4 linked regions of the Homo sapiens genome follow. The protein of the gene in region 4 purifies or fractionates together with the protein of the main gene of each other region. This does not show direct contact. Each region holds a gene or a part of one and is shown on either strand. Other genes may lie near its edges.

Region 1 (3,500 bases), on a different chromosome or scaffold from region 4:
CGGTGAGATTACAAAACACACACCTTCCCCAAGCTATATGCCATTTTATAAGACACACACACTTGAAACTAAATGATACAGGAAGGTTGAGAATAAAGAATGGAGAGTGACATACCAGGCAACTGATACTGAAGAGAGAAAGCACTGTCCATATATCTCAAAGACAAGAGGGAGCGAGGCAATCCATGTAACTATGTGGTTCCCAACAGCTGCACATCAAAAGAATGATGTCTGGACCCATGTCCATGGAGATTTTGACTTAACTGGTCTTGGAAAGGGCTCTGACATGCTGTTCAAAACTCCTCAGGTGATTCTAATGTACAGCCAGGGATGAGAACAAGGAACTGAACCACAGCAAGGTTTAAAAGAAGCAAGATGCCGAAGAATCCTAGATCTCTATAGGAAGGAAGCCCTGTGAGAAAGCAGTACACAGAATGTGCCCAATGAATACCAGATTGATTGGTCAATTGACTGATTCTCTCACTACTAGAAACTCCTGTGCTAATTAGACAGTAAATGTCCTCACACCCAGCTATTAATCCTGTGGAAATATATCCTAAGATGAGAAGGTTGCTGGTGTAGTAATTCCAGGTCTGTTTTTAAGGCCTAATCTGTTTCTGCCCAGGGAAGGCCGCCCTGCCTCCAGGCCTCTGATGGGGCCTAGGGTTCTGTGTCAGGTGAGTGCTTTTGGGCTCCTTTTACAAACATACAGAAGTTCAAGCTGCTTCAGGTAACACCAAGGCAGGTCTTGAAGACAGGGCAACACAGCAAGACCCTATTTCTACCAAAAATAAATAAATAAATAAAATTAGCTGGGCATGGTTGTGCATGCCTCTAGTCCTGGCTGCTCAGGAGGCTGAGGTGGGAGGATTCATAGCTCACTGCAGCTTTGAATTCCTAGACTCGGGGGATAAACAGGGCTCAAGCCAACTTTGGTGCCCCAAGGCATCAGGATGTCACTCTGGGTTCAGGACCACTGGAGAAAGAGCACCAGCCTCCTTTTTCATTTTTTGAGACAGAGTCTTGCTCTGTTATTCAGGCTGAAGTGCATTGCTGCACTTCACTCACTGCAGCCTTCAACTCTTGGGCTCAAACACAAAATATATTTTGTATTTTTAGTAGGGACAGGGTTTCACCATGTTGGCCAGGCTGGTCTCCAACACCTGACCTTAGGCCTCCCAGAGTGTTGGGATTACAGGCATGGGCCACTGTGCCCGGCCATCTCAGCAGTTCTTACCCAGACACTTTGAGAGGGCTGGCAGGGTGTCCTGGCCGCCCCGCCCATCCTTTCCTAGGCAGAGGGTTTTTGTCATGCTTTGTAAGATAAAACACACCAGAGCTGCTGGCTGAGCCTGCAAGGCCGCAGGGCTGTGGGAGAAATAGAACTTGCAGAATTTTTTGCTGCCCCCACTGCCTGGGCTAGGATTTCAGGCTGATACCTTTTAGGGTTTCAAATTCTCTGCCTTCGCCATGGCGATGGTTTGTTTCCCATCGAAGGGTGGGAAAGGATTCCAAGTTTGTACCACAAAGAAGAGACAGGGCTTCAACCCTGCTTCAATCTCAGATAAGAAACTCTATTTGGCTGGGAGCAGTGGCTCATGCCTGTAATCCCAGCACTTTAGGAAGCCGAGGCAGGTGGATCACCTGAGGTCAGGTGTTTGCGACCAGCCTGGCCAACATGGTGAAACCCCGTCTCTACTAAAAATACAAAATATAGCCAGGCGTGGTGGTGGGCGCCTGTAATCCCAGCTACTTGGGAGGCTGAGGCAGGAGAATCACTTGAACCCAGGAGGCAGAGAGGTTGCAGTGAGCTGAGATTGTGTCACTTCACTCCAGCCTGGGCAACAAAAGTGAAACTCTACCTTAAAAAAAAAAAAAAAAAAAAAAAAAAAAAAGATCTGCCGAGAGTCCTGGAGCGAGTCACTCAAACTCTCTGAGCCTCACTTGGAACGAGAGCTGAGGGTAGAATTTATCTCAGACAATGTAATAATCATAATTTAGGGTGATGGTTTTAAGCTAGCACCCAACCTCAAGGCCTTTCTGTGTTCATACCTTTCCCAGTTCTGGTCCCCTCCCCTCTCACTTCCTTGCAGAGACTCTCCATTTTTGTCTCCCCATCCAGAACCTGCCTGCTTGCCTTCCAGGACTGGGCCCCCTTTGCTTCCTGAGGTCCCTCTTCTTCCTCTCCCAGACCTTTTATTTTGCTATGGACTGGACTCTGAGACCCAGGACTCAGGGCTTGCCTGCAGGCTCTTCCCACGCTGTGCCCCCCGCCAGCTGTGCCCCACGCCAGCTCGCCTTCTCTACTCCACCCTTCACCTAAACTGGAAAACTCGTGATCTACTCAGACATGCAGAAAAGTACTGAAAAGAATCAGCCACGCATGTCCCCACCACCACGGTTTGGTTGATGTTTTCACAGTACCATCTTTGCTGCAGATTTTTCTAAAAAGGAAGAGAAATGTTATTGTTCATTATCCTTTCAGGCCCCTTCTTAGGAGTAGCAGAATTTTAGATTTACTGGTTCTTCCTAAGCCTGTTTTATTTTATTTATTTAGAGACAGGGTCTTGCTCTGTTGCCCAGGCTGGAGTGCAGTGGCACAATCACAGCTCACTGCAGCCTTGAATTCCTGGACTCAGGGATCCTCCCCTCTCAGCCTCCTGAGTAGCTAAGACTAGAGGCATGCACCACCATGCCCAGCTAATTTTTTTTTTTTTTTGGTAGAAATAGGGTCTCACTATGTTGCCCAGGCTCGTCTTCAACTCCTGGCCTCAAGTCATCCTCCCGCCTTGGCCTCCCAAAGCGCTAGGACAAGTGCGAACCACTGCACCTGGTTCCCTAAGCTTTCCAATACATAGACACATCTGCATTCAGGAAGAGTAAGTGGAATTGCTCTGTGTATGTTTCTAAAAATGTATATATGCAAGCATCATCTTTGCATCCTTCATCAACTTGCTTTGCTTGCTCACTGTCATGCCTTTTCGGGTCGTGGATACACACATCCCCGTCACCTTCTGTCAACTGCACTCTCTTTATCCTCTCATCTCCAACTGATCCCCGGGTTCGGCGTGGAGGACCTCTCCTGAAGAAGCCTGTGTGGCTGGGTCAGGGCCCTCCTTTATCTCACTATCACTCCGCATTGCTGCCAGCTGTGTACTCAGCCAACTCTCTGCTCACCGTCCTGCACGCAGGAGGTGACTGGATGGGGACAGGGCAGGGGGCAGCCTGCTCAGGCCTCGCACTCCTTTCCACTAGCTGGAACCCCTGCCCCATTCATCCCCACCTCCGGGCTCTGCTGGTCCTGGGGTGTGAAGCGCAGGGCAATGTATGCTCTCTTGAAATGCTGAGGGAAGGGGAGAATCTTAGCAGTCCCCCATGGCTTACTCTCATTCATTCATTCATTCAGCACGCGTGTAGCACCAGTGTCTGGGGGAAGGCAGCCACACAGCCACATGTGGCTACCCCGGAGTCACATAGCTGCTGAGATAAGAGCTACCAAG
Region 2 (3,986 bases), on a different chromosome or scaffold from region 4:
TCGTATGTGACTGAGTCAGTGCCAGTTTATCGATGGTATCTTATTACTTATTACTCTTACTCACTCTATTACCCAACCTCCTCTTTTATTACAAGATTATCCCTAAATCCACACTTCAGTGATGTATTGTTAGGGTCTGGGACACTCCAGTGGGGGAGAGTTGTGGAAACGGAGCTATTGCACTCTGAGTAAATGCTCTCCACCTGGATCGGTCAGGCTCATCTGCCTTGCTTTCTTCCATTTGGCCACTCAGAGACACAGACATCAGGATGCAAATGAAATGTGGGTAGGCCAGGTGAAATTACCTGTAAAAATAGATACGTTTTTTCTCCGAAGAGCTTGTTGGCGATCTTCAGCTCATATGCATCAGTGGATTTGTTGAATTCAGTCAGAAGCTTTTGAAACTGGTGATGAACATTTCCTGACCTATCAACCTTCAAACATCAAAAAAGGAGATCATTCAATTGCTGTATCAATGTAAATACTAAACCCATGCTAAGTCTGTTAGATCAGTCCCTAATGGCTGGTAGTCTCAATGAGGACCTTTGAGCTTATTCCCTGATACTTGGTGTATTTCACCTCAAATACCCTTCAAAATCCACCTTATGTTTCACTTCTTCCAGGAAATTCTTCTTGCTCTAATGTACTGCAATCTTTTCTCTTCTGAACTATAGATGCAGCACTGTCTACCACTGGATTTTGTCCTTGTTGGTTTAAAGGGTTAGGTTTAGCTTCCCAGTTAAACTCTCAGCTCCTTAAAGGCAAGGACCATATTTCACTTCTAACAGTCATCAAGGATATGAGTATGTTGAAGGTTGGATATTTTAAATAGATTATGCCAGGAAGCCCTGTTATACCTGTTGGTGCTGTTATCTTGTAGGACACATTGACTGATCTGTGACTGTTTCCTCATGATGGTCATTCTCTGCACGTAAGAAGAGTGTGTGCCAGGTACATGGCTAAGGACTTTACATGGGTAACTTTAAGTCTTTAGTTCAATTCAGGTGAAAACAAGAAAGCTCAGAGAATGGAAAGTAAACCTCTTCATAGAGACATAAATTAGAAGTGCCACGTTTTGAACCTAAGCCTGTTTAAATCTAGAAACTTCTACTTTCCAGCAAAGCATTTTGCACTATTAAGGCTCTAAACCAATATATTCCATAGCAATCATTTTCCAAAATATAGTTGGACTTGTGCTTATTCCTCTTTATCTCATTAATGACTCAATGAAAATTAAATATTTTGCAACATTATTGTGATTAGTATAATTATAGCTATTTTATAATAATAATAACATTTATTATGACATTTTATGGGCAAGGCAATGTTGTAAACATTTGCATGTATTTGCATGTATTGAGTCAGATTTCTTATTACCCTTAGTTTTCTGGGATGAGGTCACTGGGACTCTGAGCAGTTGTGTCCTGCTCATGTTCACCATTTGTGAAGAGCAAAGCTGGAGTCTGAACCTAGCCTATCCTGATCCAGACCTATGCTCTGAGGTACAGTGCTGACTGTCTTTCAGTAACGAAGAAAGGAGGAATAATAATTATGTGCCATGAAATGCCAACCCACTCTGTATGTCTCAATCTTTGTGTCCAAGATTTTCCCTAAAAATGGCCTTTTCTTAGTTTCTGTGAAGTTCCAGGTTCAAACTATGACCTGTTCGGGGATCTAAAGCTGAACCATAGTGCTCTGTGACTCACATGATATGTTGCAGCTTTTCCTGTGGTGTTCTCTGTGACTTGATCAAAGTGAAGAACCTGGAAGAGACATGAAGCGGGACAAGAAAACTTTACTCAAAAGATCTGTTTAAGTCAGTGGTCTCACAGTTACGGGAATTCCTGCTCAGCCCCCTGTGCTACCCATCAGACCACCACATCTATTACCATCTGCGTGCTAGCCGACGGAACCAGAGAAAAACTGCAACAGGACAACATAATGATGCTGATAGCTACCTTCTTAATCTGTTGTGCAGTGTTGTCTTTGGCTCCTAAGAGGACCATCCCTAATGCTGATGTGATGCTGATAGGGGAATAGAAGATGTTGTTCTCTTTTGATTTTCTGAACTGTTGGAACAGGTCGAACATGAACTTGGTGTTGGCTTCACTGAGTGAATTCATGGTGAACTCGATGTGATCTGGAACTCCTGGAAAAGCATCAGATTCCTGTCAGAATGACTTTAATAAATGGAATGGTATTTTGTAGTACAATTTTCTTAAAGAAATTATATATCTGTGTTGTGAGATTTTGACATTTAAAGTTTTCCTCATCTTATTTTTAACGTTTCAATCTTTCTACAATGTGCATATATTAAATATATTAATGTCTTAATTAGAAGCCTCACAAAATTAGTGTTTTTAAAGACTACTGTAAATAAGTAATAGACCCTCTTTCCTTCATTGCTGGCTACACTAGGGCTAGGTAGGAAGGCTTTACAATGAATGCTAACAGGAGACCTCTGTGGATCACATCCAACCAGCTGTTAAGATGCGTCCCTGACATCTCCTTCAAGACTCTCTGGCTGCAAGGCACTCTCCCTCTGTGTTCCTAAAAGTGCCTTGGTTTACTTGGAACTAAGCAATTTAGATAAAGGACAAATCAGATGAAATAGGTATTTTAATTTTGCTCTGGCAGAATAAGTAAAATATAATCAGACAGAATGCAGGAGATGCATGATATAGAACACAGTATCATTATTATTCTCAAAAATAATTCATGTTATTAAGCTGGAGAGGCTTGAAGCTCTTACCTGTGTTCCTAGAGGAAGCAGAGGTGGGCAGAGAGGCTATGTGTGTCTGTGGAATGAAGGGTGAGATCCTGAATTTATGCCTCTCCTCTTGCTGCCTCTCCCTCTGTGGTTAGTATTTGAAGTTACTCAACTTCAGATTTCACAAGCGGGCTAACACTCACCTTTATGAATACGAAAATTTATGACAAAGGACAGGATTACAGTTCTACCATTGTACCTCCTTTTTAATCTATAGGGAAAAAATAAGAATGCAAGTCAGCAGTCACCGGCTCATGTGAAATACATGTAGGTGCCTTTCTAATGCCAATGAGAATAAGTTTAGAATTCCAATTTCCTCTCATTTGTTTCAACTCCATCCCTTTGTATTCTACTCCAGCTGTAAAACAAAAACAAAAACAAACAAACAAAAACCCCACCATTCTTTTCTTGGATTTTGCATTGTCTTTTAGGCATACTTCGAATACCAAAGAACTAAAAAGCTTACATTTCCTGTTTTTCAGTTCTGAAAGTTTTTGTCATCCTATGAATTTCCTTAGTAATTTTTCTGTATAACAAGGAATATAGTGCTAATTCTAAGTCCAAAGAGATAGTGAAGAAGTGTACTTCAGTATCTTATAGCATACTATGGAGAATAGGATTCTATTGCCTTCTCCTGAATGCTCAGCTTTGGCAGTGATCCTACCAGTCACTTCCTGTGCCCCTTACAACCATCCCAGATGGTTTTCTGTTGCATAGGCTCAGTGAGAAAGTTATCTGCCTTGCTGAGTGATATGGTTTGGCTGTGTTCCCACCCAAATCTCAACTTGAATTGTATCTACCAGAATTTCCACATGTTGTTGGAGGGACCCAGGTAGAGGTAATTGAATCATGGGGGCCGGTCTTTCTTGTGCTATTCTCATGATAGTTAATAAGTCTCAGGAGATCCAATGGGTTTATTAGGGGTTTCTTCTTTTGCTTCTTCCTCATTTTCTCTTGCAGCCACCATGTAAGAATAACTTTTGCCTCCTACCGTGATTCTGAGGCCTCCCCAATCACGTGGAACTCTAAGTCCAATTAAACCTCTTTTACTTCCTAATCTCAGGTATGTCTTTATCAGCAGCATGAAAACAGACTAACACATTGAGTTAACAGGCTGACACTGAGAAGAGCAATTGAAACAGACGGGCCATTTTGAATGTCAGCTTTCTAATTTTTCATTTAAAAATTAAGCAGAAAAAGAAGTTGCTTGACCTGT
Region 3 (4,032 bases), on a different chromosome or scaffold from region 4:
AACGAAGATCATGCCACTGCACTCCAGCCTGGGCAACAGAGTGAAACTCCATCTCAAAAAAATTTTTTTCTTTATTTTAGAAAATGCAGAATTTGCACAAATTGTATTTTCTGAGCTAGATAAAAAAAAATAAGAATGTTTTGAATATTTGTTTTTGTGAAAGTAGGAAATTTCTTAGTAGATTGCTCCTACAAGTGTGTGATCTCTTGAGAACCAGATATTTTCTCTTGATAAAAATGTGCATGTTCTGGCTGGGTGCGGGGGCTCAGACCTGTAATCTCAGAACTCTGGGAGGCCAAGGGAGGCAGATCACTTGAGGTTAGGAGTTTGAGACCAGCCTGGCCAACATGGTGAAACTCCTTCTCTAGTTAAAATACAAAAATTAGCCCGGCGTGGTGGCGCACACCTGTAATCCCAACTACTCGGGAGGTGGAGGCAGGCAAATCTCTTGAACCCGGGAGGTGGAGGTTGCAGTGAGCCGAGATTCACGCCACTACACTCCAGCCTGAGTGACAGAGCGAAACTCCGTCTCAAAAAAAAAAAAAAAAATGCCGATGCCTGTCCCCGTGTGTCTGTGTGTGTCTATACTTGTGTGCTTATGTGTGTCTGTGTCTGTGTGAGAAGGGACTGGTGAGGTCAGAGGTAGACGGGTGATCTCTAAGGCTTTCTTTTCTCCTTTTTGCCTTTTCCATTTATCACTCCCTAAAGATTCTCAATGTGAAGTGGCAAAGCAGCCTGGAGACAAAGTTTAATGAATTGATATATAAAGAAAGTTTGTTCACCAGTTGCTTGGCATTCTTGGTGCCAAATTTAGAGCCCGCTGGTTCTGATCAGTGATTTTCAAAGGGTACATAAGAAGAAACCCAAATTACCATCATCAGTCCAAAGTTTTTCAGAGTTCTATGTGACTGGTTGAGGAAACACTGCTTGAATTTCCCCATAGCCTCTGCAGCGGCATCACTGTCTATGAACTCTTGAAGAAGCTCTTTGTATTCAGGTATAGATATGTCGGAATTGATGGTCTTTTCAACCATGTCCTCCAGGAGTTTGCAGCCAGAATCTGGAAAAAAAAAAAAAAAAAAAAAAGACACAAGAACATGGGCCATTACTAGAGGTGTGATTCATTCTACAGATGAATTGGGAAGCTGGCTATCTTCGTACCTCCAGGGACAGACCGAGGTTCAGAAAGATTTTGGTGCAGTATGCAGAGTTCTCAATTCTGGGAGTGTAAACTCAGGCTCTGCAAATTCTCTCTGACCTTCCAAACCCAGAGAAGCCCAACCCTGTGTATTCTTGGTGAAGAGGACCCTCGAGAAATGAGGTGTTCTGACTGGGGGGACATAGCAAACACTACTTGGACTTTCTTGGTTCAAAGTCATGCAATGCTTCCCTGTTATCATGCCCAGCATCAGGTAGGGTTTCCAAGGATTTCAGATGAATGGGTCTAGGACATTGTCCATTAGTTCTGTTGACTCTACTGCAATAAAAGGGAATGTGTGGCCAGGTATGGTGGCTCACGCCTGTAATCCCAGCACTTAGGGAGGCCAAGGCAGGCGAATTGCTTGAGCTCAGGAGTTTAAGACCAGCCTGGACAACACAGGGAGACCTCATCTCTACAAAAAATTTAAAAATTAGCCAGGCATAGTGGTGTCCACCTGTAGTCCCAGCTACTCGGGAGGCTGAGGCAGGAGCATTACTTGAGCCTTCGAGGAAGAGGTTGCAGTGAGCTGAGACTGTGCCATTGCACACCAGTCCCAGTCCCAGCCTGGGTGACAGAGCAAGACCCTGTCTCAAACACACACACACACACACACACACACACACACACACACACACATGAATGTGAAATAGAGCTTGTTCATGAGGGGATCTGAGGTCACCTCCCACTGTAAGGGAGAGGAACGAGCTCAGGACGTGGCTTCATGTGAGCTGGTTGTGCTCTGGACTTTGTGATTTTCCAGTTAGTTGACTGTGAGCTTGTCACCCTTCTACACATCTGCACCTACCTTGGATGCCAATACGGTAGGGTTTGGAATCCACCTTTGTGAACTGCACAAGGCAGGCTACCTATGGAAATATTAGCGCTGATTCCAGCAGCCGGGGCTTTTTCCTCCCACTGAATCTTTAGTGCTGGAAGGAGACTCCAGGGGTTGTGAGTTCTCACCTGTCTGCCTTGAGCCTGAAGCAACTGGGAGGGTAAGGGCATCCCAGAAGGACCCAGATCAACTCTGAGAACACAGAGTGAGCCACACAGGGTGAGAGACACTGGGTCACACTCTGCAGCCTGGGCCTTCTGTCCTGGGAGGTTTCCTATTTCGTTCCATATTCAAGGAGACCCATGATTATTTCCTGATTTCTAGGTGTAGATGCCATCTCTCCCTTGCCCCACTGAAATAGTTCATTTCAATATTTAATCCTGAGACTCATCCTGGTTTCTATGGTCACCGTGACCATGGTGAGACGCTGAGTGCCATGATACACTGTGTGCAGCTCCAATGCAGGGGACAGCCCATGAGGACACTGCATGCTTGATTGTCAGGAACTCATGGGGATCCTAAGGCCTATCGCACCCAGGCCCTTCACACTGGGGCTCGTCTGTGCTGGGGATTAGAGGTTGGGAGTTCTTCTACAGGGGCCCAGGTGACAATTCCTAGCCCAGAAGCAGCCCTCTCTGCCCAGAACTCACCTGCATAGCAGTGCAGGAGGAGGGCCGCCAGCATGAGGACCATCAGCAGCTTCATGGCGAGGCGGCTGCTGTCTGTGTTCAGTCGTGCGTGGCAGGGATCAAGGAAGTTGCTGTGGAGGTGAGTACCCAGCCCTGCTCTATTTATTCCCCAGGGAGGCACCTTAGTCCCTCCCAGGAATGAGGCAATGTGTCAACCTGGCATGGGACCAGGACACAATAGTGTACACCAATGGGAACACAGCCAGCCTGTGCTCTGTTTGTAGAAACCAAGAAGGCAGTAATATTTGGATCCCTGACAATCTGGGGACTACAATAATGATACATGGCTTTTAGTAAAATGGATGTGACAGTGTTTTCCAAAATATAAAGCAAAACCCAGTGGCGTGATCTTGTGGTCTCAACAATGTTGTTATTATTGTAGTTTTCTTCTAGTCCTCCTTCCCTTCTTCCTCCTCCTCCTTCTATTCTTTTTCTTCTATTCCTCTTGGTCTCCTCCTCTTCTCGTTATTCTTCAAGGTACAAACAGTTTCATAACTTGTGTATCTGCCGGTCCTGGAATCATCAAATATTTGGGCTATGTGCAATACCTGCATCTTCCTATGGGAGGCAGACCTTCCTAATCCATAGACATTTCTTTTTCAGAAAAGCGGGTTTTTTTGTTTTTGTTTTTTGGGGTTTTGTTGCTGTTGTTGTTGTTGTTTTGAGACAGAGTCTCACTCTATTGCCCAGGCTGGAGTGCAGTGGTGCGATCTTGGCTCACTGCAGCCTCCGCCTCCCGGGTTCCAGAAATTCTCCTGCCTCAGCCTCCTGGGTAGCTGGGATTACAGGCATGCGCCAGGACACCTGGCTAATTTTTGTATTTTTAGTAGAGACAGGGTTTCACCATTTTGGCCAGGCTGGTCTCGAACTTCTGACCTCAGGAGATCCACCTCACTCAGCCTCCCAAAGTGCTGGGATTACAGGCGTGAGCCACCATGCCCAGCCCCGAAAAGTGCTTTAAGTTTTGGGGAAAACATTAATATCTAACCTCTACTGAAAGCTTCTTGTTATTCTTGTTAAGAATTACAACACTAAGTTAATTCAACTTTACAAATTTATTTTACAATATATTTATAATTTAATTTGTGCTTAGTTCTTTGTTAGCCTTTTACGGTTTTCTATCCACTGACTGAGAGGATGCTGTGAGTGAGTGGAGTAACTGACTGCTTGGGCAGGCAGTGCTAGGCAGTGGGTGGCAATGGGGTTGGGTGATGATGAGATTTAGGTGATAAGATTTGGGCAGGTGTGGGTGTGGATCCTGGAGGCCACACGTACTCATGCTGTGTCTTTGGGCAAATTACAATGCT
Region 4 (4,952 bases):
CCAATAAAACTTTACTTACAAATACAGGTGGTGGAAAGTTCTAGGGCTGGACAGTGCTAATGGCTGCACTACATCGTGAACATACTTAATGCTACTGAACTGTAGACGTTAAAAAGGTTAAGTTTTGGCCAGGCGCAGTGGCTCATGCCTGTAATCCCAGCACTTTGGGAGGCCGTGGCAGGTGGATCATGAGGTCAGGAGCTCGAGACCATCCTGGCTAACACGGTGAAACCCCGTCTGTACTAAAAATACAAAAAAAAATTAGCTGAGCATGGTGGCGGGCGCTTGTAGTCCCAGCTACTCGGGAGGCTGAGGCAGGAGAATGGCGTGATCCCAGGAGGTGGAGCTTGCAGTGAGCTGAGATGGAGCCACTGCACTCCAGCCTGGGCGACAGAGTGAGACTCCGTCTCAAAAAAAAAAAGGTTAAGTTTTATGTATTGATATTTTACCACAATAAAAAATAAAAACAAAAAATAATAATAAATTACCATGGGGAAAAAACCTGACAGACAGCCGGACTTCGCTGGTGGGCTGTGGTTAACCAGCCCTCCATCTGCAGTGACAGTGACTCCCTCTCAAGGTTTAGGGGGCGTGTGTGGCAGCCCTGCAGGCCGTTAACACAGCAGAGTACATACTGCATATGTGTGCAGGTTTAAGAATAAAACGGGCCGGGCGCGGTGGCTCACGCCTGTAATCCCAGCACTTTGGGAGGCAGATCACTGGGCGGATCACCAGAGGTCAGGAGTTTGAGACCAGCCTGGCCAATATGGTGAAACCCCATCTCCACTAAAAATACAAAAAATTAGCCGAGTGTGGTGGTACATACCTATAATCCCAGCTTCTAGGAAGGCTGAGGCAGGAGAATTGCTTTAACCCAGGAGGCGGAGGTTGCAGTGAGCTGAGATCACGCTACTGTACTCTGTCGCCTGGGTGACAGAGCAAGACTCCGTCTCAAAAAAAATAAATAAATAAAATAATCCCCCGTGAACCCATAGCCTGGCCTAAGAGCAGGGCCTTGGGGGCCCACATGTCCCCCAGCTGTGATGCTGCCCCTGGCTGCTGCGTGGGCCGGGAGCAGCACTTGGGGGGGAGACGCAGGCCCAGAGCAGCAGTGGTAGGAACGGGTGCCCTGAGGGCAGTGCCGGGGTTCCCTTGAAACACTCTGTCCTTTCCTCCTCCCATGGTGCCAAGAGGCGCCTCCCGGGAGGACCCTGAGATCATGAGGCCACCGTACCTGTTGGAGCGCCGCCGCTTGCTCTTCTTCACGCACTTGAGGAGGCAGCAGGTGAGGAAGGCCATGGACATGAGCAGGATGATGGCACAGCTCACAATGGAGGCGATCACGGCCACCTTGAAGCCAAAGGTCTCGTGTGGTGGCACCACTGTGTGGGAGACAACCACCAGCTCCTGGGCGAGGTTTGCCCAGATTTGCTTGGCCCAGGGGTTGGGGGTCTCAGGGGTGGTACGGGTAGGGCCTGGGTGTAGACAGGGCCTGGGCAGCCCTCAGTGAGCCCTGTTTGCATGGTAAGGGGGCAGTGAGGTGCTGGGGGCTGAGGCAAAGATCTGTGCAAACTATATTTGGAGGTGGGACTATCAGAGAAGACTCTCCCCAAGAAGCAGGTTATTTGAGCAGGGTGTGTAGGAGTATGCAGAGTGGCTATTTAAAGGGGGTATTTAAGCAGGGTTTTCCAGGGTGTGTAGGAGTGTGCAGAGTGGCTAACTGAAGAGGGTATTTGAGCAGGGTTTTGTAGGGTATGTAGAAGTCTGCAGAGTGGTCAATTACAGAAGTTCTGGCAGGGAGTTCAGAGTGATGGCCTCCTTGGCTCCTACCCACTGAAGTCCTGCCTGAGGAATGAAGGAAGGGTGGGCCACAGAGAGGAGGTGACAATAGACAGTACTGAGGAGGCCTTGCCCAGCCCATGGTCTGGGTTTTCACAATGCCCCAAGGTGGCAACATTCTTCAGGGGGCCTACATGCCTTCTCAGGTCACTTTCCAGGAAGGTCCAAAATACTATGTATCTGCTGTGTGACCTCAGCTATGCTCCAAAAACTAGTTCCATCAGATTCTACTGGATGTTCTGGCTAAAAAAGGCCTCGGAATCCTAATTTGAGCAACACCGTTTACTCCCCCACGTAGAGAACATGGCCCTGTCCCCTGCCCCATTTCCCATGCTCCCTAGTGGATCCTGGCCACCCAAAATGGAGACTACATTTCCCAGTGGTCACAGGACCATGTTCTGGCCAGTGGAAGATAAGAAGTGATGTGGGGCAACTTCTAAGAACCTTCCCTGAGACACTGGGGCCTGCTCTTTGGCCCCAGGGCCCCTCACCCCATAACAGCTGCCTGGAACATAGCTGCTGCCATCTTGAATCATGAGGCTGAGGCCATGCCCAGCAGAGCCATGCCAGGGAAGGGGCCTGGCTCCCACTGCCATGGAGCCTATACAGATCTGCCTGCCCACCCTGAAGGTTGAGCTCCATCATAGTTAATCCTAGTATTTTGGGTTTTCTGCCTTTCAGAATCTAATCCTAACACTCGCATCCTCAGAGAATCACCTAGCACGTGAACATTTTAAAGGCTCTGAGAAGTTCTGCAGCATAAAAACCCAGAATCTGCCAAACTATTTTGACTCTGAGCCCTTTTTATGCACAAAACACATGAACATAACACACATAGCTTCATTTTGGAAATGTCATGCTGGGCACTGAAAAGGGACTATCTTGTGGACCTTTCAACACCTGTACAAGAAATACAACCAGAAAACCATTGCCTCCCACAGACTGGGAGCTCCAGGGCCAGGCACGTTATGACCTTCCGTGTTGCCAGTACTTAAGATTCCTGATACGTGAAATATCCTATTAAAGTTGGCCATGTGCACCTGTACATGAATGAATGAATGAATGAATGAATGAATGAACAAACATAGTTTCCTGCTTAACAGATGAAAACGTGCTGGCTCAGAGAGCATGCACAGCCTCTTGGCGGTGAGGGGCTGAGTCGGTAGCAGAGCCAGGATTGGAGGCCCGCTACTAGGTTTTCGGTCCGTGCTGCCAACATGGCACTGGGAGGGCTGAGGGCCTACAGCCGGCTGCTGACATGTAAGCAAGCTGTCAGTGTTGGGAATGGGACCCTACACACTGGCCTAGCTGCTTGTGAGTAGACACCCACGCCATCCCCACCCACACCATCCCCATGACAGGATTTGGGGCCATCCCCCACCCCCAGAGCCACCGAGCTGAGAGAGGGGTCCTTACGTTTGCACACTGGGGACCCTGAAGACCACTCAGCGATGCTCCCCTTCCAGGTGCAGGTGAGGAGCCCAGACCCCACCATCTGGTGGTTGGAGGGGCAGCGGAACATGAGCACGGTCCCCACGGAAGCACCATTGCCACGAAGGACTTGGAAGGTTGCTTGCGGGGGTAGCCGCAGCTTAGCGCACGTGCCTGGGGAGACAGGCAGGTATGAGGCATGGCGGGGGGGGGGGGGTGGGCACGCAGGGCAGGGCTGGGCAGGACCCTGGAGTGAGGAGCTGGCACAGCATTGGGGAGCACAGGGGTGGGGTGCAGCTCCAAAGGCCATTGGATGCTCTAGAGGTCACATGGGGTCATCCAGACCGGGGGACAACGCAGAGCTGGATCCCTCCATGAAGTACACTCTAGATGTTGAGGATTGGAGCATTAAAAAAAGAAATAAGTGTTAGAAGACAATAAAAGCAAACATACCTTCCCTGAGACACTGAGGCATGGCCTTTGATTATGACCTAAACACGGCTCCAAAGGCAGAAATCAGAACAAAAAAAAAAAAAAAAAAAAAAAGAGGGACAGAGAGAGATCAGCAGATTTGACTGCATACAAAGCAGAAAGCAAAAGCTTCTGAGGCTCCCTAATAATGGAAAACAACCAACTCAGGTGAAAAATTCGGGAAAGGATATTTGGAAAGCATAGGTCAAAGGTTGGTTCGGTAGTCTTAATCTATGAAGAGGTCTTACACATCAATGAAAACTGAATATTCAGTTTAAAAAAAACCAACAAGTTCTAATGTGTGAACAAGCAATTCACAAGGATACCAGTGGCCCACAGTCATGAAAAATGCAGACCCACAGGCAATTGAGGAAATGTTGATTCAAGGGAGAGCTCATTTTTCCTGCGTCGGTGAGGTAAAGGCAAAAAGAAAACAATGTGCAAGTTGGCAGGGCCTGGGAAGCCCTGTACCCGGGCTGGGGTACAGATCCAACCTTTCTGCAGAGCATTTGGTAAATGCAATAAGCACCCTATGTTGCATATGAACCTTTAGCCACAGGAAATAAGAATCTGCTGGCCAGGCATGGTGGCTCATGCTTGTAATCCCAGCACTTTGGGAGGCCGAGGCAGGTGGATCATGAGGTCGGGGATTGAGACCATCCTGGCCAACATGGTGAAACCCCATCTCTACTAAAAATACAAAAATTAGCTGGGCATGGTGGCATGTGCCTGTAATTCCAGCTACTCAGGAGGCTGAGGCAGGAGAATCGATTGAACCAGGGAGTCAGAGGTTGCAGTGAGCCAAGATCACTGCACTCCAGCCTGGCAACAGAGTGAGACTGCATCTCAAAAAAAAAAAAAAAAAAAAAAGAATCTGCTGCCAAGATTTCTCTATGGGGAAGCCCACCTCAGAACCATACATAATAGTGAAAGGCTGAAACAACCCACGCCTCCAGCAGGAGGGAATGATTCCCTTACCCAGGGCCATCCAGACATTAAAATACCAGAGAGCACTTACAGTGATGTTCTTTTTTTTTTTTTTTTTTTTTTTTTTTGAGTCAGAGTCTTGCCCTGTCGCCCAGGCTGGAGTGTGCAATGGCGTGATCTCAGCTCACAGCAACCTCCACCTCCTGGGTTCAAGCAATTCTCCTGCCTCACCCTCCCGAGTAGCTGGGATTACAGGCATGTGCGACCACACCTGGCTGATTTTT

Evidence for each region. Proteins that work in one complex are often made in the same cells at the same time.
Region 1: the proteins of SUSD3 (region 4) and PPL purify together in Homo sapiens (affinity purification with mass spectrometry; 3 studies listed by BioGRID and IntAct, with this or other methods). This does not show direct contact.
Region 2: the proteins of SUSD3 (region 4) and SERPINB3 purify together in Homo sapiens (affinity purification with mass spectrometry; 3 studies listed by BioGRID and IntAct, with this or other methods). This does not show direct contact.
Region 3: the proteins of SUSD3 (region 4) and SCGB2A1 purify together in Homo sapiens (affinity purification with mass spectrometry; 3 studies listed by BioGRID and IntAct, with this or other methods). This does not show direct contact.

Annotation. Positions count from the first base shown.
Region 1 is NC_000016.10:4,927,149-4,930,648, forward strand, and holds part of PPL (periplakin), read right to left. Parts: intron 1-3,500. UniProt on the Homo sapiens protein: Component of the cornified envelope of keratinocytes. May link the cornified envelope to desmosomes and intermediate filaments. May act as a localization signal in PKB/AKT-mediated signaling.
Region 2 is NC_000018.10:63,659,094-63,663,079, forward strand, and holds the start of SERPINB3 (serpin B3), read right to left. Parts: upstream 2,801-3,986; 5' UTR 2,753-2,800; intron 2,150-2,752; 5' UTR 2,124-2,149; coding exon 1,959-2,123; intron 1,764-1,958; coding exon 1,707-1,763; intron 435-1,706; coding exon 306-434; intron 1-305. UniProt on the Homo sapiens protein: May act as a papain-like cysteine protease inhibitor to modulate the host immune response against tumor cells. Also functions as an inhibitor of UV-induced apoptosis via suppression of the activity of c-Jun NH(2)-terminal kinase (JNK1).
Region 3 is NC_000011.10:62,207,441-62,211,472, reverse strand, and holds the start of SCGB2A1 (mammaglobin-B precursor), read right to left. Parts: upstream 2,801-4,032; 5' UTR 2,742-2,800; coding exon 2,687-2,741; intron 1,061-2,686; coding exon 873-1,060; intron 1-872. UniProt on the Homo sapiens protein: May bind androgens and other steroids, may also bind estramustine, a chemotherapeutic agent used for prostate cancer. May be under transcriptional regulation of steroid hormones.
Region 4 is NC_000009.12:93,074,276-93,079,227, reverse strand, and holds part of SUSD3 (sushi domain-containing protein 3), read right to left. Parts: intron 3,793-4,952; exon of another isoform or gene 3,746-3,792; coding exon of another isoform or gene 3,724-3,745; intron 3,445-3,723; coding exon 3,256-3,444; intron 1,383-3,255; coding exon 1,235-1,382; intron 1-1,234. UniProt on the Homo sapiens protein: May play a role in breast tumorigenesis by promoting estrogen-dependent cell proliferation, cell-cell interactions and migration.